Linked DNA regions of Homo sapiens. The protein of the gene in region 1 purifies or fractionates together with the protein of each later gene. This does not show direct contact. Each region holds a gene or a part of one and is shown in the gene's direction. Other genes may lie near its edges. The genes, in order: CALD1, SRGAP2B, IARS2, MYO5C, SPTBN2, TRAP1 and PRR11.

The links.
Region 2: the proteins of CALD1 (region 1) and SRGAP2B purify together in Homo sapiens (co-immunoprecipitation; one large-scale study listed by IntAct). This does not show direct contact.
Region 3: the proteins of CALD1 (region 1) and IARS2 purify together in Homo sapiens (affinity purification with mass spectrometry; one large-scale study listed by BioGRID and IntAct). This does not show direct contact.
Region 4: the proteins of CALD1 (region 1) and MYO5C purify together in Homo sapiens (affinity purification with mass spectrometry; one large-scale study listed by BioGRID and IntAct). This does not show direct contact.
Region 5: the proteins of CALD1 (region 1) and SPTBN2 purify together in Homo sapiens (affinity purification with mass spectrometry; one large-scale study listed by BioGRID and IntAct). This does not show direct contact.
Region 6: the proteins of CALD1 (region 1) and TRAP1 purify together in Homo sapiens (affinity purification with mass spectrometry; one large-scale study listed by BioGRID and IntAct). This does not show direct contact.
Region 7: the proteins of CALD1 (region 1) and PRR11 purify together in Homo sapiens (affinity purification with mass spectrometry; one large-scale study listed by BioGRID and IntAct). This does not show direct contact.

The regions. Positions count from the first base shown.
Region 1 is NC_000007.14:134,967,932-134,971,229, forward strand, and holds the end of CALD1 (caldesmon), read left to right. Parts: intron 1-408; coding exon 409-414; 3' UTR 415-622; coding exon of another isoform or gene 623-658; 3' UTR 659-2,798; downstream 2,799-3,298. UniProt on the Homo sapiens protein: Actin- and myosin-binding protein implicated in the regulation of actomyosin interactions in smooth muscle and nonmuscle cells (could act as a bridge between myosin and actin filaments).
Region 2 is NC_000001.11:144,892,829-144,896,328, reverse strand, and holds part of SRGAP2B (SLIT-ROBO Rho GTPase-activating protein 2B), read left to right. Parts: intron 1-2,819; coding exon 2,820-2,921; intron 2,922-3,500. UniProt on the Homo sapiens protein: May regulate cell migration and differentiation through interaction with and inhibition of SRGAP2. In contrast to SRGAP2C, it is not able to induce long-lasting changes in synaptic density throughout adulthood.
Region 3 is NC_000001.11:220,142,632-220,146,131, forward strand, and holds part of IARS2 (isoleucine--tRNA ligase, mitochondrial precursor), read left to right. Parts: intron 1-312; coding exon 313-503; intron 504-1,286; exon of another isoform or gene 1,287-1,745; intron 1,746-2,877; coding exon 2,878-3,022; intron 3,023-3,500.
Region 4 is NC_000015.10:52,243,805-52,247,304, reverse strand, and holds part of MYO5C (unconventional myosin-Vc), read left to right. Parts: intron 1-290; coding exon 291-388; intron 389-1,262; coding exon 1,263-1,349; intron 1,350-1,839; coding exon 1,840-1,951; intron 1,952-2,737; coding exon 2,738-2,949; intron 2,950-3,500. UniProt on the Homo sapiens protein: May be involved in transferrin trafficking. Likely to power actin-based membrane trafficking in many physiologically crucial tissues.
Region 5 is NC_000011.10:66,687,717-66,691,216, reverse strand, and holds part of SPTBN2 (spectrin beta chain, non-erythrocytic 2), read left to right. Parts: intron 1-933; coding exon 934-1,178; intron 1,179-1,273; coding exon 1,274-1,412; intron 1,413-2,036; coding exon 2,037-2,121; intron 2,122-2,367; coding exon 2,368-2,564; intron 2,565-2,905; coding exon 2,906-3,048; intron 3,049-3,137; coding exon 3,138-3,213; intron 3,214-3,298; coding exon 3,299-3,349; intron 3,350-3,500. UniProt on the Homo sapiens protein: Probably plays an important role in neuronal membrane skeleton.
Region 6 is NC_000016.10:3,707,525-3,711,024, reverse strand, and holds part of TRAP1 (heat shock protein 75 kDa, mitochondrial isoform 1 precursor), read left to right. Parts: intron 1-622; exon of another isoform or gene 623-640; intron 641-3,500.
Region 7 is NC_000017.11:59,197,246-59,200,745, forward strand, and holds part of PRR11 (proline-rich protein 11), read left to right. Parts: intron 1-298; coding exon 299-358; intron 359-447; coding exon 448-544; intron 545-3,500. UniProt on the Homo sapiens protein: Plays a critical role in cell cycle progression.

The DNA.
Region 1 (3,298 bases):
TCAGGAGTTTGAGATCAGCCTGGCCAACATATAGGGAAACCCCGTCTCTACCAAAAATACAAAAATTAGCCGGGCGTGGTGGTGTATGCCCGTAATCCCCAGCTACTCAGGAGGCTGAGATGGGAGAATCACTTGAATCTGGGAGGCAGAGGTTGCAGTGAGCTGAGATCACACCACTGCACTCCAGCCTGGGTGACAGAGCAAGATTCCATCTCAAAAAAATAAAAAGTAAAATAAAAGATCATATTTGAATGGAATGCCGATAATAATCCTCCCTTTCATAAATATTTATTCCTGCCATACTATTATTCATTTTTCTTCTGACTATAAAAACCATCTGCCTGAAACACTGCAGGCTGTCAGTTTCACACTACAGGCTGTCAATTTCAAGTTCTCTTCTCTTGGCAGGTTTGAGACAGTTCCAGAAAGAACCCAAGCTCAAGACGCAGGACGAGCTCAGTTGTAGAGGGCTAATTCGCTCTGTTTTGTATTTATGTTGATTTACTAAATTGGGTTCATTATCTTTTATTTTTCAATATCCCAGTAAACCCATGTATATTATCACTATATTTAATAATCACAGTCTAGAGATGTTCATGGTAAAAGTACTGCCTTTGCACAGGAGCCTGTTTCTAAAGAAACCCATGCTGTGAAATAGAGACTTTTCTACTGATCATCATAACTCTGTATCTGAGCAGTGATACCAACCACATCTGAAGTCAACAGAAGATCCAAGTTTAAAATTGCCTGCGGAATGTGTGCAGTATCTAGAAAAATGAACCGTAGTTTTTGTTTTTTTAAATACAGAAGTCATGTTGTTTCTGCACTTTATAATAAAGCATGGAAGAAATTATCTTAGTAGGCAATTGTAACACTTTTTGAAAGTAACCCATTTCAGATTTGAAATACTGCAATAATGGTTGTCTTTAAAAAAAAAAAAGAAATGTACTGTTAAGGTATTACTTTTTTTCATGCTGATGATTCATATCTAAATTACATTATTATGTTAGCTGACAGTGGTACTGATTTTTTAGGTTGGTTGTTTTGTGGATTTCTTTAGTAGTGATAGTAGCCTGAACCACATTTTAGATAACTCAATTATGTATGTATGTGCATACACATATACAAACACACTAATGGTAGAATGCTTTTTTATGTGCTAGACTATTATATTTAGTAGTATGTCATTGTAACTAGCCAATATCACAGCTTTTGAAAAATTAAAAAATCACACTATATTAATATTTTATATTTGCCAACAGAAACATGGCAGATAGGTATCAATATGTTTTCAATGCCTGATGACCTATAAGAAGAAAGTATTGAAAAGAAGAGAGATTAGAACTGTTAGAAGGAGTTGAAATTTTCTAAAAGACATAGTATTTAGTTTATAATTAAATGCATTCTTGAAGTCCAGTGTGAATTTTATTAATGCTATCATCTCGACCAAGCTCAAAGCCTACTTATTAGAAACAATGAAGTTCACAATAGGTCATAAGGTCTCTTCCTTTTCTAAAATTGAAAGACAAGAAATTTAGTGCCAATATTGTACAGACAGAAATTCCATGTATGAGTCTCAACAAAGACTACCTTTGGCTAAATGTCTAGAAGCAGAGAAGTAAAGTGAGCAAAATCCAGTGTTGAGGAGTCATGACAGTACTTTGATCTTTATATACTCTGAAGCATTTCTTCAAACTTTTCTACTTTTATTTGTCATTGATACCTGTAGTAAGTTGACAATGTGGTGAAATTTCAAAATTATATGTAACTTCTACTAGTTTTACTTTCTCCCCCAAGTCTTTTTTAACTCATGATTTTTACACACACAATCCAGAACTTATTATATAGCCTCTAAGTCTTTATTCTTCACAGTAGATAATGAAAGAGTCCTCCAGTGTCTTGGCAAAATGTTCTAGTATAGCTGGATACATACAGTGGAGTTCTATAAACTCATACCTCAGTGGACTTAACCAAAATTGTGTTAGTCTCAATTCCTACCACACTGAGGGAGCCTCCCAAATAACTATTTTCTTATCTGCAGTATTCCTCCAGAAGAGCTAACCAGGGCAGGGCTGGCATGAGAAGTGACATCTGCGTTACAAAGTCTATCTTCCTCATAAGTCTGTAAAGAGCAATTGAATCTTCTAGCTTTAGCAAACCTAAGCCAAAGGAAGGAAAGCCATGAAGAATGCAGAAGTCAAACCCTCATGACAAAGTAGGCACAAGTCTACAATAAGCTAAATCAGAATTTACAAATACAAGTGTCCCAGGTAGCATTGACTCCCGTCATTGGAGTGAAATGGATCAAAGTTTGAATTAAGGCCTATGGTAAGGTAACATTGCTTTGTTGTACTTTTGAACAAGAGCTCCTCCTGATCACTATTACATATTTTTCTAGAAAATCTAAAGTTCAGAAGAGAATGTATCACTGCTGACTTTTATTCCAATATTTGGATGGAGTAAGTTTTAGGGTAGAATTTTGTTCAGTTTGGATTTAATCTTTTGAAAAGTAAATTCCTTGTTTACTGGTTTGACTATAATTCTCTGTTATCTTTACGAGGTAAAACTGCAAGCTGACTAGCATGTTCTGTGAATCTGCCATTCCTAAAAATTTTATAAACACTTGATACTTTTCACTGATAATGGATCGCTCCAATAAACATATATTGTGAAAATGCATCCACAATAAATGGAATTCCTTCCTGCAAAATGTCTTTTTCTCACTTATTTTTATGTACAATATTGATAGTGAGAGGTATGTCTATTATAATAAAGATTATGGCACAGTAAAACCTGTATTTCAGGTTGAGTCTTGGTTTCACTCTTTAAAGAAGAAAAGCATTTTCATATTTTTAAATTACCTAATAAAATATAGAAAATTGGTCTTATGTTGACAACTGACCTAACACGTATGGAAAAGGTTGAAGAGGGATTTTGCAAATCCTTCCTAAAAGAAACTATCGTCCAGGCACAGTGGCTCACGCCTCTAATCCCAGCACTTTGGGAAGCAGGAGGATTGCTTGAGCCCAGGAGTTCAAGACCAGCCTGGGCAACATAGCAAGACCCCTTTCTGTACAAAAAAAATTAAAAAGCCAGGCATGGTGGCATATGCCTGTAGTCCCAGATACTTGGGAGCCTGAGGCAGGAGGATCGCTTGAGCCCAGGAGGTCGAGGCTACAGTGAGCCCTGATAGCACCACTGCACTCCAGCCTAGGTGACAAAGCAAGACCCTGTCTCAAAAAAAAAGTAACTATCGATTGTCCCTCCATCCTCCTTCTCATTGCCAGTGTTGTCACAT
Region 2 (3,500 bases), on another chromosome or scaffold:
TTGTGTGGTTGTGTGTACAAGTCAGAGTGAACCTCATTCCTGTGGATAAGAGCCACCATTTCTCCTACTGGTGAAATTAGAAGGAGGTTGTATAGGGCTTATGCGATAGAAAAGATCAAGATGGACCTTTGGGTATAGTTGGCTTTAGGAGGAGGAATTTTACCAAGACACTGTTTTGCTGTCTCTGTACTACTTCCTGTGTGTTAACTCCATTCTCAGACAGGCCATTCTCCCATGGAGGCAAGGTGACTGCATTTCCAGCCTTCCCTGGTAGGTTGAAATCTAGTGGAAAGAGTCTCTGCCTCCCTCCTCAAAGCCCCCATAAAGTTTGTGTGTCTCATTGGTTTTGATTGGGTAAAGTGCTTATGCCTGGGTCCATGCAAAGCACGTGGCCTGAGTTGTGGAGTGGGAGGTTCCCCTCACCGAGGGCAGTTAGACCAAAGCTACCAAAAAAAGGAGGAGTGGACGCCGGGGACCAAAAAACAGCAACATGTGTGCTCCTCAGGAATGATGCTTCCCTTAAGATTAGCATCCAGACTCTAGAAATCCCCACTCCAGAATGACAGCTGTGGCAGTGGAACCAGAGGATTTGCTGTCATCAGTTGGCCTCTATGGAGAGTGAGATGCTGTCCTGGAGATAGAAATGTGGAGTTGGTTTCCTTCCTTTCCTTCTTGGGGAAAATCAAACCATTTACAGTTCATTTCCATTGCTGTGGCTTAGGAAATGTCAGTGTCTGAACAGATGGAGAAGTGAGATGGCAGCATGTGCAATTAGAATTGGGGGAAGGGGTGTCACCAAGCCTCAGGAAGCCCCATTCCTCACCTGCCCTGGCTTCTGGTCAAACTTGCCTTCCAAGCACCTTCTCCAGCTGTCACTGAGGTTCCTTCCCAGGGATCAGTGGAACTTGGGGACCAGCTGAGTGGAGTGATACATTTTCTGGTGTTAGTGACTGAGTTGCCTTCTGAGCCAAACAGCTTGTCTCCATAAAGGAGGAATCCAGATGCTGGGTGCTCAAGCCCCCTCCTCCCCCTGTCAGAGCCTTATTTCCATACTCCGGAGTGCAGCTGAAGTGTATTACCTTGCACCCTGGTAGCGGACCACTGCCAAAGCATGCATCATCATCAGCTCTGCTACTTCTTAAAGGAACAGGCTTGGAGGTGGTTTTTCCCTCCATGATTCCTCTCTGCTAGGTCTGGGTTACTTTAAAAATCAATAGCTCACTCTTCTGCCAGGGCCCTCCCTTTATGTAATATAGCTGATCAGTGGCTGAGCCAGGCAGGGGCCAGGACCAGTCCTGGAGCTTGTGAAGGTTCCGCATTCTAGCCTAGCCTTCATATGAGTGAAAATAAAAAGAGATGAGAGGGTGGGTCATTCTTGGCCTCTGCAGCCAGTCTATCCCCATCAGTGTGGGTTGTCTGCAGATTGTGGAGGCAACAGGAGGGAGCTGCCTGGAAGTCGTTGAACTAGGGCCAAAGATTGGGTAGCATTTTGACCGGAAGCCTTAAAATTGGCCAAGGTCCCACACTAACTGGTGTTCTGGGGTGCACAGCACATGAATTGATGCCAAGTGCTCTCAGATGTACTAGGAGGAGGTGCTTGGCTCCATTTTTGGTGCCCTCAGAGGCTGTGGGACTCTGGATGCCTGACTGGTGACATCAGGCAGCCAGAGAATTTCACTCTTGGCGCTAACCGGTTCTGGCCACTGAGCTTTCTCCATTGTGTCTGCTTATCCAAGAGTTAGAGTGAAGTCAGCTCTCTGTGGATCTGAGAGTTGGCTCAGGCCAGCCTCTCAGCTGGGGGAAGAGGTCAAGTCAGTTGGGAGCTTAAAAGCCAATGGAGGAAAAGGTCAAGTCCCAGCCCCCTCCATTTGAAGAAAGGTTTTTTCTTTTCAAGCAAGGGAATGGTCCGTGGGCATGTGAATGTGCCCACTCTTTGCTGAGGAGGAAGGAGGCCATTTCTATCCAGATGTCTCTCTGCAGGCAAGAGGCTAAAGGACGAACGGTAACAAGGTGACAGGAGCTGTCTCCACATGGGTCCTGCCTCCCAACTCTCTCAGCCTTCTGCTCCTCATCTGTCATCCAGGGGACTGTGGATGACCTCATCCCATAACCACATCTCCAATGGGAGACAGTGGAACAGCCATTCCTTCACACAGGGGAAAGCTAATTGGCAATAATCCTTGCGGGAAGGTCAGACTCCTCTCTTACAGATCTAGGGAAGGCCTGGTAAAATGATGGCTCTTTGGAAAATGCCAAGCTCCTTCAGATTCCATACCCTCTCGGGCCCTCAAGCATAGGCAACGAACTTGTTCCTGGCTTCACGCTTTCTCATTGAATCAAAGCTCTCATGCATGGCCTGGATTTGTAAACACATGCTGGCTGCCAGCAGTGGCAAGTTAGCCTCCTGACCCACTTCTCTCCTGCTTTCACTCTGGTGTATGAAGGGGGATGAGGGAGGGGCCAGAGAGGTGGCCACTTGGACCTTTGGCAGGAAATCTTCACTGTGCCAAAGCATTGTGTTTCTGGAGCCGGAGCTGCCTGAGGCACTCTTCTCCAGCCTCCTCAGCCTTCCATGGAGCTGCAGACCCTACCTAGACCTACCCCTGCCGGGCTCCAAACAGATCCCCCTACCCATTCCTTTCATGTACTGTTTGGTCCTGGAAGAGGCTCACACAAGTTGGCTTTGGGTTTTGCTTCAACATAGAAACCACGAGCCTTATACCTTGAATATGGGTAGTTTCATTGCCAGTAATGGGAACTCTGGAACTGCCAAAGGGACTGTATCCTCTTTCTGACCTGGTGTTGCTTTCTTTTGTTAGGCTTCCCAGCTCTGTGCCCAGCAGCCTGTCCAGAGTGAGCTGCTACAGAGATGCCAACAACTGCAGTCTCGCTTATCCACTCTAAAGATTGAAAACGAAGAGGTGAGTTTCTTCCTTAGGAGGCTCAAAGCCACACTCTTAGTTTCCCTGTTGAAACTTTTGCTGCTGCCCGTCTGGGAGCAGGTGGAAGGAGCATGCAGAGAATGTCCGGGCGGCCGCAAACATTTCCTAGCCAAATGTAGGCTTGGACTTTCCCCCTCTGCTACATCCTGCCCTTGAACTCCAGGAAGTTGCTCTTGCATTGCCAAAGGTTGTGCTCTATTTTGAGCTTTTGCGAAATGCTTTTTTTCCCCTCTACACATTTAATCAAAATGGCACTTGGCAGCTGTGTGAACAATATTGTGTCTCTGAAACCACCTCCTCATGCCTAGCTTTTTCCAGCATGTTCAAACAAACAGAGGCCTTTGACTTTGACACTTCAAACATCTCCATCCTCTTAGGAAAGGGTGAGTTTCTTCTGGGCTCAGTGTATTTGCTTTCAAAAAGCGGTTCAAAAGGGCGGGTGATCCAGCTTTCTGTTGAGCTCAGATGGCTTCTTACCTTGTGTCTCAGTAAGTCTTACTTTCTGCAGGAAGATCAGGAAGAAGTAGGGATAGGTCACTTAGTTTGCAAATGAGCAAA
Region 3 (3,500 bases), on another chromosome or scaffold:
GGGGGAAGTCACTTATAATGTTACTCCTGATAGCTGTTAATATTGGGATATTTCTATTTATTTTTTTCTAAGCATCCTTTTTTTCTTTGAGATCTTATTATATATTTTCTCTTTTGTTTAAATATAACAAAGATTTTCCAATGCTGATATAAATGTTTTGTAAATAATTAGGATGGATCCATAATATTTCATCACTTGATTACCATAAATAACAATTCTTATTTCCCATTAATGGTAACTATTTAATGGTTAGAGCTTCATATACAGTTTAGGATGTTTGTAAAGCAGTTTACTATTTTTGTTCTTCTGAAGAGCCCAAGAGTGTTTTCCGTACTGGGTGGATTAGTACTAGTTCTATCTGGAAAAAGCCCGGGTTGGAAGAAGCTGTGGAGAGTGCGTGTGCAATGCGAGACTCATTTCTTGGAAGCATCCCTGGCAAAAATGCAGCTGAGTACAAGGTTATCACTGTGATAGAACCTGGACTGCTTTTTGAGATAATAGAGGTATGCAGCAATATGTACCTTTTGAAATGGTGTTAGTATCATAGAGCTTTGCCTGAAATTTGCTTTTAAAATGTGTCTAAATTAATCAAATAACATTGGGTTATGTGTAACTTTACTATGCAATTATTCTATTATGTTCCTTTTCACATACTTTTTCACTTTTAAATATCTTTTAATAAATTAAGCAAAGTCATGCACATTTAAAAAAAAGTGTCTAAATTAAAAAAAAATTAATTTAGAAATTAGGGTTTCCGTCTTCTAATCCTGATATCATCACTGATTCTTTTGTTTCCTATTTCACCATATTCTTTTCCATGTCTTGTAAAACGTGTTCTGTGCATGTAACACATACATATTACTGTGTAGGGATAGGGAAGGAATAGATAAAGTTCTGTTTCAAACAAAAGGCCTCAGGACTATTTAGAAGACAGGGGACATATAAATTGATCGCGATCGTCTTTGAATGTATAAAAAATGGGAGTTTTGTATTAAGGGTCAGGTTTCCTGAGAATTTCATCCATCTGGACCAGATTCAAAACAAACCCAAAAAGAGTTTCCATTTTTATTTTGTGAAATCTGGAGAAAATTCATTTTCTCCAGCAAGTTACCACATATATTTCAAAGCATTTATCCTATTTTTATTTCTAGAAGGGCCATCAGAATTTTATTCTTGGGATTTTTAGGGGTTGATTGGCCAGATTGGCTTATAGCTTAACATAATGATGTGATTTTTCTCCAGTCTAAATGCTTAAGAAGAGAATTGGCAATGAATATAATTTTTTTTCCACGGGGCATTTTATTTGTAAATATATGTATTACATCCCTAGAAAAAGAATCCCAGGATTTTCCCTCCTGTGTGTTTTCATCTTGCTTCTTCATGGTCCATGATGCCAGCTGAGGTTGTCAGTACAATGAAACCAAACTGGCGGGATGGAAGCAGATTATTTTGCCATTTTTCTAGATCTTTGCTTTGCACATCAAATCTGGGGCTGATGTCTCCACACTTGTTTAGCCTGCCTGTGAGGTTCACAACAATTTTCCCAGCTCTGTGACCATCAGTGATTTCAAATTTGCCAATGTAACCATGCTTCATCATCACGGTGAGAAACAGGATGATGACTTTGGAGCACGGCCTAATAAGCACCTGGCTTTTGCCTCTCTTTTTGGCATTGTTGATGCTCTTGAGAGCATCAGCCAGGACATTCATGCGCACCATTGTGGTGGTGCAGAAAGACGGTGGAAGAGCTATTTTTTAAAAGTTTTATTAGTGTCAGTTTTCTAAAAAACATCCATCTTATTTTGTATGGTAAGCTCAATTTAAATTTTTAATGATGTAATTAGCAAGATTAAGATTTGAGCTTGAAATAGCTAGTAGGTATAATAGATGAGATTTTCCCATTTTAAAATTTAAAACTTGGGAAGCTGTTCATTTTACAAGTGAGGAAGTGAGGACTGCTGAAGCTGTGACCTAGACAGGGTAACACAGCCTAGTCCTGGCCTTTTTTCCTACATACTGTGTTTCCTTTGTCTTCAGTCTTTCTAAGTAATGAACTGAAAAGAAGAACAGCTTGTTTGGATCAATTTTATTGGAAAAAATACTTTGGGATTTTCAAAAACATGAATGTATTTTCCTTAGGAATCATACCAAGTAGCTGTAAGATGGAGTCCTGGTTCTATCCATTACTAATTGCATAAACTTGTTAAAACCAAATTAATCTCTTTGAGTCTCTTATTTCTCATGGGCTTTAATTTTTAAAGGAATGTCTATGTTGGTTAGCTTACAAACTCACTTTGAAGATCAAAATTACAGAGAAAAATGTGTTCATCAGACAAATTCAGTCTACTTCATAAGTGTTCTGCGTATTGTTCAGATTGCCACTATCAGTATACATTACTAAAAGCTGGTACCTGTTGAGATAGTATTTTAGCCCCTCACCCAATGATACATGAAAAAAAAAAAAAAAGGCTTTGAGGCTGACAGACCTGGGCTTGACCTGCAGTTCCACCACGTATGGGTTGAGAATCTTGGGCAAGTTAACCTCTCTTTGCTTGTTTCTTCATTTGTAAAGTGAGGATAATAAACACCATATAGGTTTTTTTTGTGTGTATGTATGTGACAATTAGAAGTAAGAGACATCTTAGGATCTAGCAAAGTGAAGTGCCTGGCATTCTCAATAAATACTGTTGATGGAAATATTTAGTTAAAACCTTTTATGCTAATTAGGATTGATACATTTAGTGATGTTTGCTCAGGATGCAATGGTATACCAGAAGGTTCCTCTCTAAACGTGAGATTTTATAGTGTTTCTTTTTATAACCTCAGTTTATGGTACAAATTTAACATAAACTGTAACTTTCACATGCTTCCTTCCAGATGCTGCAGTCTGAAGAGACTTCCAGCACCTCTCAGTTGAATGAATTAATGATGGCTTCTGAGTCAACTTTACTGGCTCAGGAACCACGAGAGATGACTGCAGATGTAATCGAGCTTAAAGGGAAATTCCTCATCAACTTAGAAGGTAAGAAGGAGATGAAAGTAACAAGTAACATCTGGAGAATTGAATAATTATAGGTCATCTCCAACTTTCCAGTGGACTGGGTTTATTCTAAAGGTAGATATATACTTGGAATACATCTTTCTATGGAAATAATAAAAACAATTGCCAAGTTTCTAAGCCCGCTCTTAAAACTATCTTACCTGATGATCTTGGGAACTGAGGGCTAGGGACAGAAGAGGGAGAGAGATTTTCTTTCTGTCCTTTGAATAAATAATGGTCACTGTATATGAAGTTTATGTTAGGCTGACTTGCTCCCATTCCTCTTTTGTGTCCCCCTGCTTTGATACTTAGTACCCCAGTACTGGCCCAGTCCTGCCCACTGTTCCCCAGTATTGATTCTAAAATTTCCTATTATGTATACCCCGGATTAAAATATTTAGCCATTCTTGTGAGGGGTTAAGGAGGAAGTTTTATTGAGCTCATTCTAACAATGGTATCT
Region 4 (3,500 bases), on another chromosome or scaffold:
TCGTCATACTTCCACCTCCAAGGCAGCACGCACTGGAGCAAACCACGCTCTTGCACAATAACATGGTTTATTCAGTTCTCTGCTGTCTGGGAGTATTAGTGTTCTGTCCACAACAGTAGGACATGCTGATAAACCACAGTCACGGACTGAAACCTTTCATAATAGGTGTTTATGCATGAGGTTAACTTTTCTTCCTATTGAGTAACTTAACAAGGTTGGGCTGCTTTTTACCGTGATGTAAGCAGTAAATTATTTCAGAGCCATGTTTGATCTCTAGCTTTGTTTCCTAGTTCCGCAGCTCTCTGTACTTGCTCATGGAGACCCTCAATGCGACGACGCCCCACTACGTTCGATGCATCAAGCCAAATGATGAGAAGTTACCCTTTGAGTAAGTGTTCTTATGCAACACACAGCGAAGACGTGGGAAGGCAGTTTCTGCCATAAAGTTGGAGAATTTGCTTCCAATTGTCTTGAGATTACCCTGTTTCTGGGTTTTTTTTTAATGATTCAGAACAATGCTGCCCTTTACATAAAATGTTAGCTCAGCCCCTCTGGTTAAACCCCCTCATCTCCAGGGCTAAGCAAAAGGGCTAGATTTGAAAGAATCTTCTACAACTAAAGTTTTTGCAACTTGAACCTTTTACTTGATTAAAAGAAGAATGAGTATGTGTGTTTGTAGAAGGTCATAGAAGGTCAGAACATTTGTCCTCAGACATGATGGCATGAGGCATTATTCTTGTTCTCTGGGACCCATGGAGGAGACCCAAAGCTTGTGAATATAAGGTGTAACAAGTCCCTTGTAGCTTGCTAGAGCTGAAAGAGGTGCCTAAAGGGGGATGAGCTGTCTATGGAGGTGGTGAGTGTGTGTATGGGTCACCAGATGGGTGAGACCTAAGCTGCAGAGCTACCTGTTGGGTGTTCTGTAGAGGAAATTCAAGCATCAGTGGGTGCTTGGGCCAGGCGAGCTAGCATATTTCTTTCCACCTGGTTGTCGTTTGAAGCTCACCTCAAAGGCCAGTTCCCCCATGGCCTTCTCAATGCCACCTCCATCAGAGTCAGCTGCTCCTTTCTCTATATCCCACTGCATCTTTATGGACTGTTTTGCAGAGGTGCTATTTTTCTTGGTCATGCAATAGAAACTTATTAAGTATCTGCTGGGTACCTGGCATAGGGTCACAGTCTAGCCAGGTCTGCTGTGCCTGTTTATGGGCATGTTGAGCAATTACGATGCCTCAACACATAATATCATTGTCTTTTTAAAGATTTGACTCCAAAAGAATTGTTCAGCAGCTGCGAGCCTGCGGCGTTTTAGAAACGATTCGCATTAGTGCACAGAGCTACCCTTCCAGGTATGTTGTCCGTCCTTGTCTTGGAGGGAAAAGTACCTGACATCAGAGCTATGCTGAGAACCAAGGACATGGCTGCCATGATTTTTGTCACATACTTTTGGCTTCTGTAAAGTGCCCCCAAGATTTTCCCACTGCCCTGTGGAAGTCCAGAAGAGGTTGAGAAATAGGCTTTGTAGGGGTCGGAGGTCAACACCACCTTCTCACCCCATCACTGCATCTCGGCTGCTGGTGGTGGCCCCACCGCCTCCCCCGTGTACTAGGGAAGACGCTGAGTGGGAGAAAGAGCACAATTGCTGGGGCAGACAGGAGTGCTCAGGGTGGTCTTGGTAGTGTCCCAGGCAGGCAGGGTATCAAAGATCAGTGCCTTTATCCTCAGGACAGATTGCACCACCCCCGCCCTATGACAACAGTGGCAGGTAAGGCAGCGGAGTCCCCAGACACAATGTGCTTCCTCTGACACTCCTGGCTTTGATCCCCTTTGATTTTCCAGGTGGACATACATCGAGTTCTACAGTCGCTACGGCATTCTCATGACCAAGCAAGAGCTTTCCTTCAGCGATAAAAAGGAGGTGTGCAAGGTGGTTTTACACAGACTCATCCAGGTCAGTTTCCCCACCTCCTGGGATCATGGTCTCCTTCCTGGAAGCACATCTCCCAAACATGCTGTTTCATCTTTGTCTTGAATGCTCAGGACTGTAATCATGAACACCTGAAAGGAAAGAAAATGTGCCCTGAGCATTTGTCTGCTGAAGAGACCATAGCAGAGTGCTCAGTGGGCCATGAGTCCCCGTTAGGGACCCACATCCGAACTCCGGCCTCCCCAGTGTCCTCGTATCCTGTTTAGCTCTCCCACGATCTAACCCAGTCCTCTGTGGACCAGGCTTATAGGATATGGTCAACTGGGGTTGTCACCAAGCCACATGGGCTCCAGGCATGGTGCCTTGTGTGGATTGACATCATTGCTGCAGCGATGAGTTGTGATGGGAAAGAGATGGGGAGTTATAAGGTCCAGCAAAGGGGATGGTGAAGAGAACCCAAAATGGAGACAGAAAACCAAACTTCCCCAGTTTCTTCTACTCCAATGTGGAGACCACGAGAGAGTGGCTGAAGTTCTCTGGCAGCCCAACTGAGAATCGCCGCAAATGACACTCACTCCCCTTCTCACCCACAAATGGATTCCTCAGCCTAAGTCCCATTTCTTCCTCCAGGGTAATTTTAAACAAACAACTCAAAGTATACATTTCTAGATCATGATGTGAGTTTTCTGCCTTAAATGTCAAAATCACAATATTTCTGGCACCTTTGAATCCCTAAAGCTCTTTTCCAAATACTGTATTATAGAAAATCTGACAGATTTTAATTCTAACTATATCATTTTTCTCTTCCAGGATTCTAATCAGTACCAGTTTGGTAAAACCAAAATTTTCTTCAGAGCAGGACAAGTGGCTTATTTAGAGAAACTTCGATTGGATAAACTGAGGCAGAGTTGTGTTATGGTACAAAAGCACATGCGTGGCTGGCTCCAGAGGAAAAAATTCCTCCGAGAGAGACGAGCCGCCCTGATAATCCAGCAGTACTTCCGGGGTCAGCAAACTGTGAGGTATGTTGGAATCAAGGAACACATGTGGAACTGTGGGGCTTTCTGTGCTGATCATCTCCGGCGGGGAGGACTCATCAAGGACAAGGGACCTTTCTCCTGTGACCCAGGGTGCAGACGTGCATGGGTCCCCTTTGTGGTCGTGAGCATTAGGGCAAGAAAGGTCCGTCTCTCAGGGGCAGGTAGTGCTGGCTCTGCCTGGTGTCTGTGTGGTGAGCCGACACCCAGGGCCCTGCAGGGAGGAAGCGCTGGTGAGAGTGTTACTAAGGAGAGTCAGGGTTCCGGAAGCTCAGGGAGAGGCCCGGGGCCCCTTTCCTATGGGAACTGAAAATGCATAAGATCAGCAAGGCCCTAGTGAAGATCCAAAGGACAGATGTCAAGAATAGCCAGCGACCAGCCTGCCAGCAACAGGTGGGGTGCACCATGGCAGAGGGGGTCCCTGCAAGGCCTGGCAGCAAACCAATCACAGAACCCCTAAGCAGGAAGACCACAGCAGCCCCAGCCAAGCCAAGGGCTGAGGGGAGGGTGGTCCACCAGCTGCGCTGATCCTACCT
Region 5 (3,500 bases), on another chromosome or scaffold:
TCCCAGGAGCTAGGGTAGAGCTCAGAAATGCTGGGAGGACGGCACTCTTTCGAGGGCCATTTCGAGATGAGGAAATTGCTCCAAGAAAACATCTCTGTTTGGCCAGGCGCGGTGGCTCTCGCCTGTAATCCCAGCACTTTGGGAGGCCGAGGAGGGCGGATCATCTGAGATTGGGAGTTCGAGACCAGCCTGACCAACATGGAGAAACCCCTTCTCTACTAAAAATACAAAATTAGCCAGGCATGGTGGCGCATGCCTGTAATCCTAGCTACTCAGGAGGCTGAGGCAGGAGAATCACTTGAACCCAGGAGGCGGAGGTTGCAGTGAGCTGAGATCCCTCCACTGCACTCCAGCCTGGGCAACAAGAGCGAAACTCCGTCTCAAAAAGAAAGAAAACATCTCTGGCAGGGGACATCTAGCCACTGCATTCACACTTTTGATGACAAGCCCCCTTGAGAGCCCATGATGTCTTCAGGGGTTCCCAGTGGCCAGGAGACTCTTCATGCTGCGCTAAATCAGCCTGTTAGTGCTTCCCAGGCTTGAGCTCTAGGCTCACACTCAGTAAGCATGGATCCTTCCTTCAACCACTAGAACCCATCAGCCCCTGCCTGAATCCCCTTTTCAGGCTAAGTAGCACGTTCTAGCAATCTCCAAGGTCTATCACATCCTAGACAGGCCTCTGAAAGTTCAACTGGCCAATGGCTCTTTTCCAGATCCTCCCCCAGTTAAGCCCAGGTGTCTAGATGAGACCCAACAGGGCAGAGTGTGGCCAGCCCCTGCCTTCATCTTTCCCAGCACCCCCACTCCCTGGCTCCTCCCCCTGCTTCTTTGGCTGTGAGACAGGCAGGAGGTGAGAGTGGCAGCCAGGACTGAGGCAGGCTGCGGCTCCTTGGAGTCCCCCGCTCTGCCTGACTCTGACCCGGGGCTCCGCAGGTCCAGCAGGTGCAGGACGACGGCCACCGGCTCCAGAAGGCCTACGCTGGAGACAAGGCTGAGGAGATCGGCCGCCACATGCAGGCCGTGGCCGAGGCCTGGGCCCAGCTTCAGGGAAGCTCTGCCGCCCGCCGGCAGCTGCTGCTGGACACCACAGACAAGTTCCGCTTCTTCAAGGCTGTCCGGGAACTGATGCTCTGGATGGATGAGGTCAACCTGCAGATGGATGCCCAGGAGCGTCCCCGGTGAGAATCCCAGGGCTCAGGGCCTCCACGGGTTGTGTGGCTGGGCTGTGATGGGGCTGTGGGCAGCAGGTGATGCTGTTTCTGCCTCCCCCCAGGGATGTGTCCTCCGCGGATCTAGTCATCAAGAACCAGCAAGGCATCAAGGCAGAGATAGAGGCCCGGGCAGACCGCTTCTCCTCCTGCATCGACATGGGGAAGGAGCTGCTGGCCAGGAGCCACTATGCGGCCGAGGAGGTGGGTGAGGCCTGGGTGGCCGGGCCATTCTCACTGTGCAGTGCTGAACGCTGACTTCTTGGTGGCTTTCTGCTTCCTCTCATTCTCTCTTTGCAAGAAACCTTTCATTCTCTCCCCTCAGTGCCATTCACGGGTTTCTCGCATTCTGGAAATCTCTCCCCAGAACCGTCTGCCTCTTGACATCAGAAATCACTGGTCCTGGGCCAGGCATGGTGGCTCACGCCTGTAATCCCAGCACTTTGGGAGGCCCAGGCGGGCAGATCACCTGAGGTCACGAGTTCGAGACCAGCCTGGCCTCCATGGGTTGTGTGGCTGGGCTGTGATGAAACATGGTGAAACCCCGTTTCCACTAAAAACACAAAAATTAGCCGGGCGTGGTGGCGGGCACCTGTAATCCCAGCTACTCGGAGGCTGAGGCAGGAGAATTGCTTGAACCTGGGAGGTGGAGGTTGCAGTGAGCTGAGATTGCGCCACTGCATTCCAGCCTTGGTGATAAGAGCGAAACTCCGTCTCAAAAAAAAGAAAGAAAGAAAGAAATCACCTGTCCCCCTGGATGACTCCCCAGGGGCCGTGGAAAGATCTCACATCCTGGTGCTAACTCATATCTCTGCCCCCCGCCCCCAGATCTCAGAGAAGCTGTCTCAGCTGCAGGCACGGCGCCAGGAGACAGCTGAGAAGTGGCAGGAGAAGATGGACTGGCTTCAGCTGGGTGAGCTGCCAAGGGGGCCCCAGGCCCTGTGGGGAGTGGGGGGCATCCTGCACCCTGTGGGTTCCAGAGTAGGTGAGACTAGGAACCCTGGGTGTGAAACTCACGATGCCCAATCTTCGTGCTGCCTGGCACAGCTCTGGGGCAGTGGCTTTCTCTGTGTCCCTGTTCTTGAGGTTGCCATGGCCACTGTGCCCTGCCAGTGGCCACTCTGACCCACCATCTTCCTGCAACCCCCGATCCTGCCAGTTTTGGAGGTGCTTGTGTTTGGAAGAGATGCAGGGATGGCAGAGGCCTGGCTCTGCAGCCAGGAGCCACTGGTGCGCAGCGCTGAGCTGGGTTGCACGGTCGACGAAGTTGAGAGCCTCATCAAGCGGCACGAGGCCTTCCAGAAGTCAGCAGTGGCCTGGGAGGAGCGATTCTGTGCGCTGGAGAAGCTTACTGCGGTGAGGGACACAGGACCCCGGATGCCCACTCCAACCTGCTCCCCTGACCTGTGCTGGCTTCTGCTTGGAGAAGACATGTCTTCTCTCTTCCCACTGCACCAGTGGCCCCCAGATGTGAGCTGAGAGTGCCATTGTCACCACACCTTTAGGAGGTGTCAGTTCCCCTGGGTGATGCCGAGACACCTTCTCCCGCTTTGTTTCTTGTCCCCACCATCTTCTCAAATTCTGTTCTCCTCTTATCATATTTCATCAAATTAGAGTTGAGACATTTCAGCTCTCCCTGTTTCCCTGGCCCTCTTACACGCAACCTTCTACACGCTGAATGCAGCATTTTTTGACAGCTAGAGGAGCGGGAGAAGGAGCGAAAGAGAAAGAGGGAGGAGGAGGAGCGGCGGAAACAGCCGCCTGCTCCCGAACCCACAGCCAGTGTGCCTCCAGGGGACCTGGTGGGCGGCCAGACAGCTTCTGACACCACCTGGGACGGGTGAGAGCCAGGATGCCTGGGTAGGAGGAGGCGGCTGAGCCCAGGCCACCCAGGGACTAATGATTCTGTGTTGCCTTTGGTCATCCCAGAACCCAGCCACGGCCACCACCATCCACACAAGCACCCAGTGTTAATGGAGTCTGCACAGATGGAGAGCCCTCACAGGTGACCCCACTGTCCCTCTGTGCCCCCATCGGAGTCGTAGCCCCTCCACCCCCGCACATCCTTTTACAGATTCTTGTCCTTGCAGCCCCTGCTGGGACAACAGAGACTTGAGCACAGCAGCTTCCCCGAAGGGCCGGTGAGTTCCCCTGCAAGTGTGGTGTTGATAACTGTGAGGCGAAGGGTCCAGAGGGGGTGGTGAGTGCGGGTGGGGGAGTACTGGGGATGGGATGGGAGAGGGCAGAGGCTCACAGGCAGCTTGGGGGCAGGAAGACCAACTCCTGGACACG
Region 6 (3,500 bases), on another chromosome or scaffold:
CTGGGTGTGCCTGTGGTCCCAGCTACCCAAGAGGCTGAAGTGGGAGGCTCCCTTAAGCCTTGAGAAGTCGAGGCTGCAGTGAGCTGTGATCACGCCACTGCACTACAGTCTGGGTGACAGAGTGACAGTGTCTCAAAAAAAAAAATATATATATATATATATATATACACACACACATATAAAAGAAATTAATTTTGAGATAGCTAAATTAAATGCCATATTAAGAGCAGGAGGCTATTCAGCAATGCTGCTGAGAAGAAGACAGAAGGACGTGGGTCCTTCTAATGTAACTATGTGTGTCGGGTTAGTGATATGCACCTCGAAGGAGAAATTAAGACAGCACATTGCCATGTTAGTTCACACTTGCCAGTATTTCAGCATTTGTCAGGCAATGGAATGTTCAAGCGAATTTTCCACGAGGCTGACTTTAAAACATTTCATTTTAACCATTATGATGAGAAGTCTTTCTAGAACACTCCATCATTTGATGGCCCATGACTGAACCTCTCTTGGATGTTTTCAGGGTCATTATTACGGGTGTTAATGTTTGGTCTTCTGTTTTAATATGTAGGCTCCCGTAGGGCCATTGAAATGTGAAGAATCCTTCGTCTATGAAGTGTCCCCACATCAAAACTGCATTGTGAGTGTTTATATTTTTGGCCTCTCTTACTGTGGCCTTAACTTGCAGGTCTGTCTGGAGCCCTGTTCTCTCCTTTCCTAGTTTGCAGATGTGGCTGGGAAACTTGTTAGCATCAAATTGTTAGAATGAGATGGATTTCATATGGGGCCAGTAGTCTTCCATGAGCAAAGCTCAGGGTGAGGGCTTCAGGCCCATATTTTGACTATTCCGAGGTGCCCTTTCGCTTTTTGTTCTTTTTCTTTATGTTCAAGGAGTTATGTTTCCTGATGAATGAAGTATCAGTATATCATAGTAGAGAACGATTAGACCAGGTTCTGGAACACAGGAAACCTCAAGAAACAGTGAGTGTTGAGAATGCCAGAGCTAAGAACTCAGACATTTGTGAGGGAATACAGGTCTTTCTGTTCAGAATGTTCATGTACTTAAGAATCTTCTCGCCAGGCGCGGTGGCTCACGCCTGTAATCCCAGCACTTTGGCAGGCTGAGGCGGGTGGATCACCTGAGGTTAGGAGTTTGAGACCAGCCTGACCAACATGGAGAAACCCTGTCTCTACGAAAAATACAAAACTAGCCGGGCGTGGTGGCGCATGCCTGTAATCCCAGCTACTTAGGAGGCTGAGGCAGGAGAATCGCTTGAATCTGGGAGGTGGAGGTTGTGGTGTGCCGAGATGGCGCCACTGCACTCCAGCCTGGCAACAAGAGCGAAAACTCCGTCTCACACACACACACAAAAAAAAGGGAAACAAAGGTAAACTGGGAAGGAACCGTGTGTAATCTTCCGTACCTTGCATTTTCCACTTATATTCTGGGGTTTGTTTCCTGTCGCCACAGAGCTCTGGTATTCCATAGCGAGGATGTTTTGTAATTTATGTAACCCTCTCATGGCGGACATTTAGGTTGTTGCTGAGTTTCCCCAAGATAACAGACGGCATTGCCAACAGTTTCTCACACCTTCACCAGTGCTAGAATGACAGTATTTAAAACATCTGTCAATCTGGTAGTGAAAATGCTATCTCGTTTTAAAGTGCATTTCCTTAGTTATGAGTGTGGTAAAACATCTTTTACTAGGACGTAAAGCCATTGATGTTTCTTGTTTTTGTGAATGGCCATTTTTCTCTTGAACCAATGGCCTTTTTCTTTTTTTTTTTTTTTTTTTTGAGATGGAGTTTTGCACTTGGTGCCCAGGCTGGAGTGCAGTGGCGTGATCTTGGCTCACCGTAACCTCTGCGCTAGCCCTTTTAAATAACTTTTAAAAATTGAGACAGTGTCGGGCCAGGCACGGTGGCTCACGCCTGTAATCCCAGCACTGTGGGAGGCCGAGGCGGGCGGATCATGAGGTCAGGAGATCGAGACCATCCTGGCTAACACGGTGAAACCCCATCTCTACTAAAAATACAAAAAATTATCTGGGCATGGTGGCGGGCGCCTGTAGTCCCAGCTACTTGGGAAGCTGAGGCAGGAGAATGCCGTGAACCCAGGAAGCGGAGCTTGCAGTGAGCCGCGATCGCACCACTGCACTCCAGCCTCGGCAACAGAGCAAAACTCCATCTCAAAAAAAAAAAAAAAATTGAGACAGAGTCTGACTCTGTTGCCCAGGCTGGAGTGCAGTGGCGCCATCTCACCTTACTGTAACCTCCGCCTCCCGAGGTTAAGCAGTCCTCTCGCCTCAGCCTCACAAGTAGCCGGGATTACAGGCACGCGCCACCATGCCCGGCTCATTTATTTTTATTTATTTATTTATTTATTTTGAGATGGAGTCTCGCTCCGTCGCCCAGGCTGGAGTGCAGTGGTACAATCTTGGCTCACTGCAACCTCCGTCTCCCAGGTTGAAGCATTTCTCCTGCCTCAGCCTCCCTAGTAGCTGGGACTACAGGCACCCGTCACCACGCCCGGCTAATTTTTGTATTTTTAGTAGAGATGGAATTTCACCATGTTGATCAGGCTGGTCTTGAACTCCTGACCTCATGATCCATCCGCCTCAGCCTCCCAAAGTGTTGGCATTACAGGTGTGAGCCACTGCTCCTGGCTTTCTGGCTAATTTTTGTTTTTTTTTGTATTTTTAGTAGAGACAGGGTTTTGCCATGTTGGCCAGGCTAGTCTCAAACTCTTGACCTCGGGATCTGCCCGCCCCCACCTCCCAAAGTGCTGTGATTACAGGCGTGAGCCACGGCACTAAATTTTATTTTAGAGGCAGGGTCTTGCTTTGTCATCCGGGCTGGAGTGCAGTTGTGCGATCCTGGCTCGCTGCAGGCCTGACCTCCTGGACTCAAGTGATACTCCTGCCTCATCCTCCCAAGTGGCTGTGACCTCTTCCTCCCAAGGAGCATGTGCCACCATGCCTGGCTAATTAAAAAACATTTTTTTTAGAGATGGGGTCCCACTATATTGCCCCGGCTTGTCTTGAACTCCTGGTCTCAAGTGATCCTCCTACTTCTGCCTGCCAAAGTACTGGGATTACACGCAGGAGCCGTCGTGCCTGGCCCCCAGTTTTTTTCTTAATGTGTTTGTCTTTTTTTTTTTTTTTTTTGAGTTAGAGTCTCGCTCTGTCTGTTGCCCAGGCTGGAGTGCAGTGGCACGATCTTGGCTCACTGCAGCCTTCGCTTCCCGAGTGCAAGCAAGTCTCCTGCCTCAGCCTCTGGAGTAGCTGGGATTACAGATGCCCGCTGCGACTCCCAGCTAATTTTTGTATTTTTGGTAGAGACGGGGTTTCACCATGTTGGCCAGGCTGGTCTCGAACTCCTGACCTCAGGCGATCCACCCACCTCAGCCTCCCAAAGTGCTGGGATTACAGGCATGAGCCACCTCACCCGGGTGTTTGTCTTTTGACTTAAATTTTTATGTGGTCCTTATATTTATGGCC
Region 7 (3,500 bases), on another chromosome or scaffold:
AAGTTCTAATTTTTTTTTTTTTTGGAGACAGAGTCTTGCTCTATTGCCCAGGCTGGAGTGCAGTGGTGCAATCTTTGCTCACTGCAAGCTCTGCCTTCCGGGTTCACGCCATTCTTCTGCCTCAGCCTCCCGAGTAGCTGGGACTACAGGCGCCCACCACCACACCTGGCTAATTTTTTGTATTTTTAATAGAGACAAGGTTTCACCGTGTTAGCAAGGATGGTCTTGATCTCCTGACCTTGTGATCCACCTGCCTCAGCCTCCCAAAGTTCTAATTTTTATATCTTTGTTTTATCAGCACTCCTGGAAAAAGTCAGATGGATCTGCGGAAACTGCTTAGAAAAGTCGATGTAGAGAGGTAATACACTCTCATATCTTTATGCCTTCTACGTCCATTTTAAAAGTTGCCATAAAATACAGCTACTGTTATTTTCAATACCTTTGCAGGAGCCCAGGTGGAACCCCTCTTACCAATAAGGAAAATATGGAAACAGGAACAGGACTGACTCCAGTGATGACGCAGGCCTTAAGGAGAAAGTTTCAGGTAACCCTTTAGGAAAAGAATATTGGTTCCTTTGCTTGAAAATAATTTGGCCTGGTGTGGTGGCTCATGACTGTAATCCTAACACTTTGGGAGGCTGAGGTGGGGAGATTGCTTGAGCCTAGCAGTTCAAGATGGGCAACATGGTGAAACTCTGTCTCTACAAAAAATACAAAAAATTAGCCAGGCGTGGTGGTGCATGCCTGTAGTTCCAGCTACTTGGGAAGCTGTGTTGGAGGATCACTTGAGCCCAGGAGGTCAAGGCTGCAGTGAGCTGTGATTGCACCACTGCACTCCAGTCTGGGTGACAAAGCAAGACCCTGTCTCAAATAAATAATCATAATCATAATTTATGATCATAATTTAAAGCAGCTTTCTTAGTAACAATAATTTTTAAATGGTACCGTATTTTGCAAAGTATTTTCATATTTAGGCTTCATAAAATTCTATAAAATACAGGTAGGATTGGCCGGGCACAGTGAGTGGCTCATGCCTGTAATCTCAGCACTTTGGGAGGCCGAGGTGGGCAGATCACATGAGGCCAGGAGTTTGAGACCAGCGTGGCCAACATGACAAAACCCTGTCTCCACTAAAAAAATACAAAAATGGCCGGGCACGGTGGCTCACGCCTGTAATCCCAGCACTTTGGAAGGCCGAGGCAGGTGAATCATGAGCTCAGGAGTTTGAGACCAGCCTGACCAACATGGTGAAACCCCGTCTCTACCCCAAATACAAAAATTAGCAAGGTGTGGTGGCGGATGCCTGTAGTCCCAGCTACTCGGGAGGCTGAGGCAGGAGAATCACTTGAACCTGGGAGGCAGAGGTTGCAGTGAGCCAAGATTGTGCCACTGAACTCCAGCCTGGGTGACAGAGCGAGACTTAGTCTCAAAAAAAAAAAAAATTAGCCATGTATGGTGACTCGTGCCTGTAATCCCGGCTACTTGGGTGGCTAAGGCATGAGAATCGCTTGAACCCAGGAGACGGAGGTTGCAGTGAGCCAAGACTGCACCACTGCACTCCAGCCTGGGTGACGGAGTGAGACCCTGTCTCAAAAAAAGAAAAAAAAGAACTATAGGTAGGATTATCATGTCTATCTGTAAATGTCTGATTTTATTAATCCCTTTAGTACATATTTTTAGTAAATATTTACTAAGCACTTCCTATATGCCCAGCAGTGTGTTGAAGTACTGGGAATATAGTGGTAAGCAAAAACAGATACAGATTACTGTCTTGAAGCTTTCAGTCTAGTGGGGAAAATAGGCATTCATCAAATAATCCCATATTTGTATAATATCACATGGCAGTATGTGCTATGAAGGAAAGGAATGAGGTTCTGTGGGAACCCAGAGAGGAACTTGATCTAGCCTGGATGATCTAGGAGGGACTCCCTTAGGAAGTGATGATGCTTGAGGTGAGAGTCGAAGAAGGAAGAGGCATTTACTGGATAGGGTAACTGTGGGGTGGGTCCACCATGAGTGTCAGGAAGGAGAGAGTTCCAGGCAAAAAGAACAAAATTCGTAAGAGTTCCATGGGGTGAGGGATCATGGCCTATTCAAGGAACTAAGAAGTGACCAGTGTGGCTGTAACACAGAGAGGGAGCCCAATGGTGGTGAAAGACAGGGATGGAGATGTAGTTAGGAGTCAGACCCTGCAGAGTTGAAAGGAAAAGGTCTTGAGAGCTTTCTTTGTCACATTCATATACAACCACATACCCAACCCAGTAGATCAGCTGGCCCTGGTGTGACTTCTTCCAAACCCTGTTGATCTTAGTCATCTCCCTAATTGCCTCTATCATTAGATCTGTGAAGAACAGCCATCCGTCGGCTGCCCCTGCTGGAGTGCTGGAACACAGGGCTGCTGGCATCTTTGGCTTTGAAGTTTATAGTTCGTTCTCTCTCTGGATGCAGGGACATAGCAGACTCCACTGCTGACACTTTCCACCCCAATATTGTCTTCCTTTTGTTCCGTGTTTGAGAATCAGTGCTTTTTGTGGGACAATATAATTTCTCTCTTACCAATCAACTTGGTCCTACTGGGCACTATACAGCTTTCTGCGTAGTGGAGATGTGACCAGGTTCTTCTTTCCTCCTCTTAGAGCATGCTACCCCTAATCAAGTTCCTTGGTGATACCCAAAATTGTGAAGGGCAGGAGCAAAGGGACGAGGCCTCACGGGTCTTAGCCCCTTGCTTTTTCTGTTTAGCTCTAAGATCTTTGTTGTCACTGCCCCTACTTCATAGCAGGTACAGTGAGTTGAGAACTCTGGAAATGGATAAACGATAATAAATTGTAAAGCCACATATTGAACAACAACAAAAATCACAGATAAGACCTATGGCATATGTTGTGCTGCCAAAATCTACTCAGGAGGAGGATGTCTAGTTAAAATTGTTGTTAGATATAGATGACTTATCCCACCCAACCCTTAGGCTTCTTTTTTTCTTAAACTGTGAAGCAACTGTATCAGGTTTTGCATTGGCTTCAGGTATCAGAAATCTGACTATAGTGGTTTAATCAAATAGGGACATGGCAGAGTGTAGTGGCTCATACCTGTAATCCCAGTGCTTTGGGAGGCTAAGGCCGGAAAGTCGCTTGAGGCCAGGAGTTTGAAACCATCCTGGGCGATATAGCAAGACTCTGCCTTGACAAATAAATAAATAAATTAGGACTTTTTTTTTTAATATATACAACTAACTCATTTATTTTATTTTATTTTAATTTTTTTTGAGACGGAGTCTCGCTCTGTCGCCCAGGCTGGAGTACAATGGCGCAATCTTGGCTCGCTGCAAGCTCTGCCTCCTGGGTTCACACCATTCTCCTGCCTCAGCCTCCCGAATAGCTGGGACTACAGGCGCCCGCCACCACGCCCGGCTAATTTTTTGTATTTTTAGTAGAGACAGGGTTTCACCGTGTTAGCCAGGATGGTCTCGATCTCCTGACCTTGTGATCCACCTGCCTCGG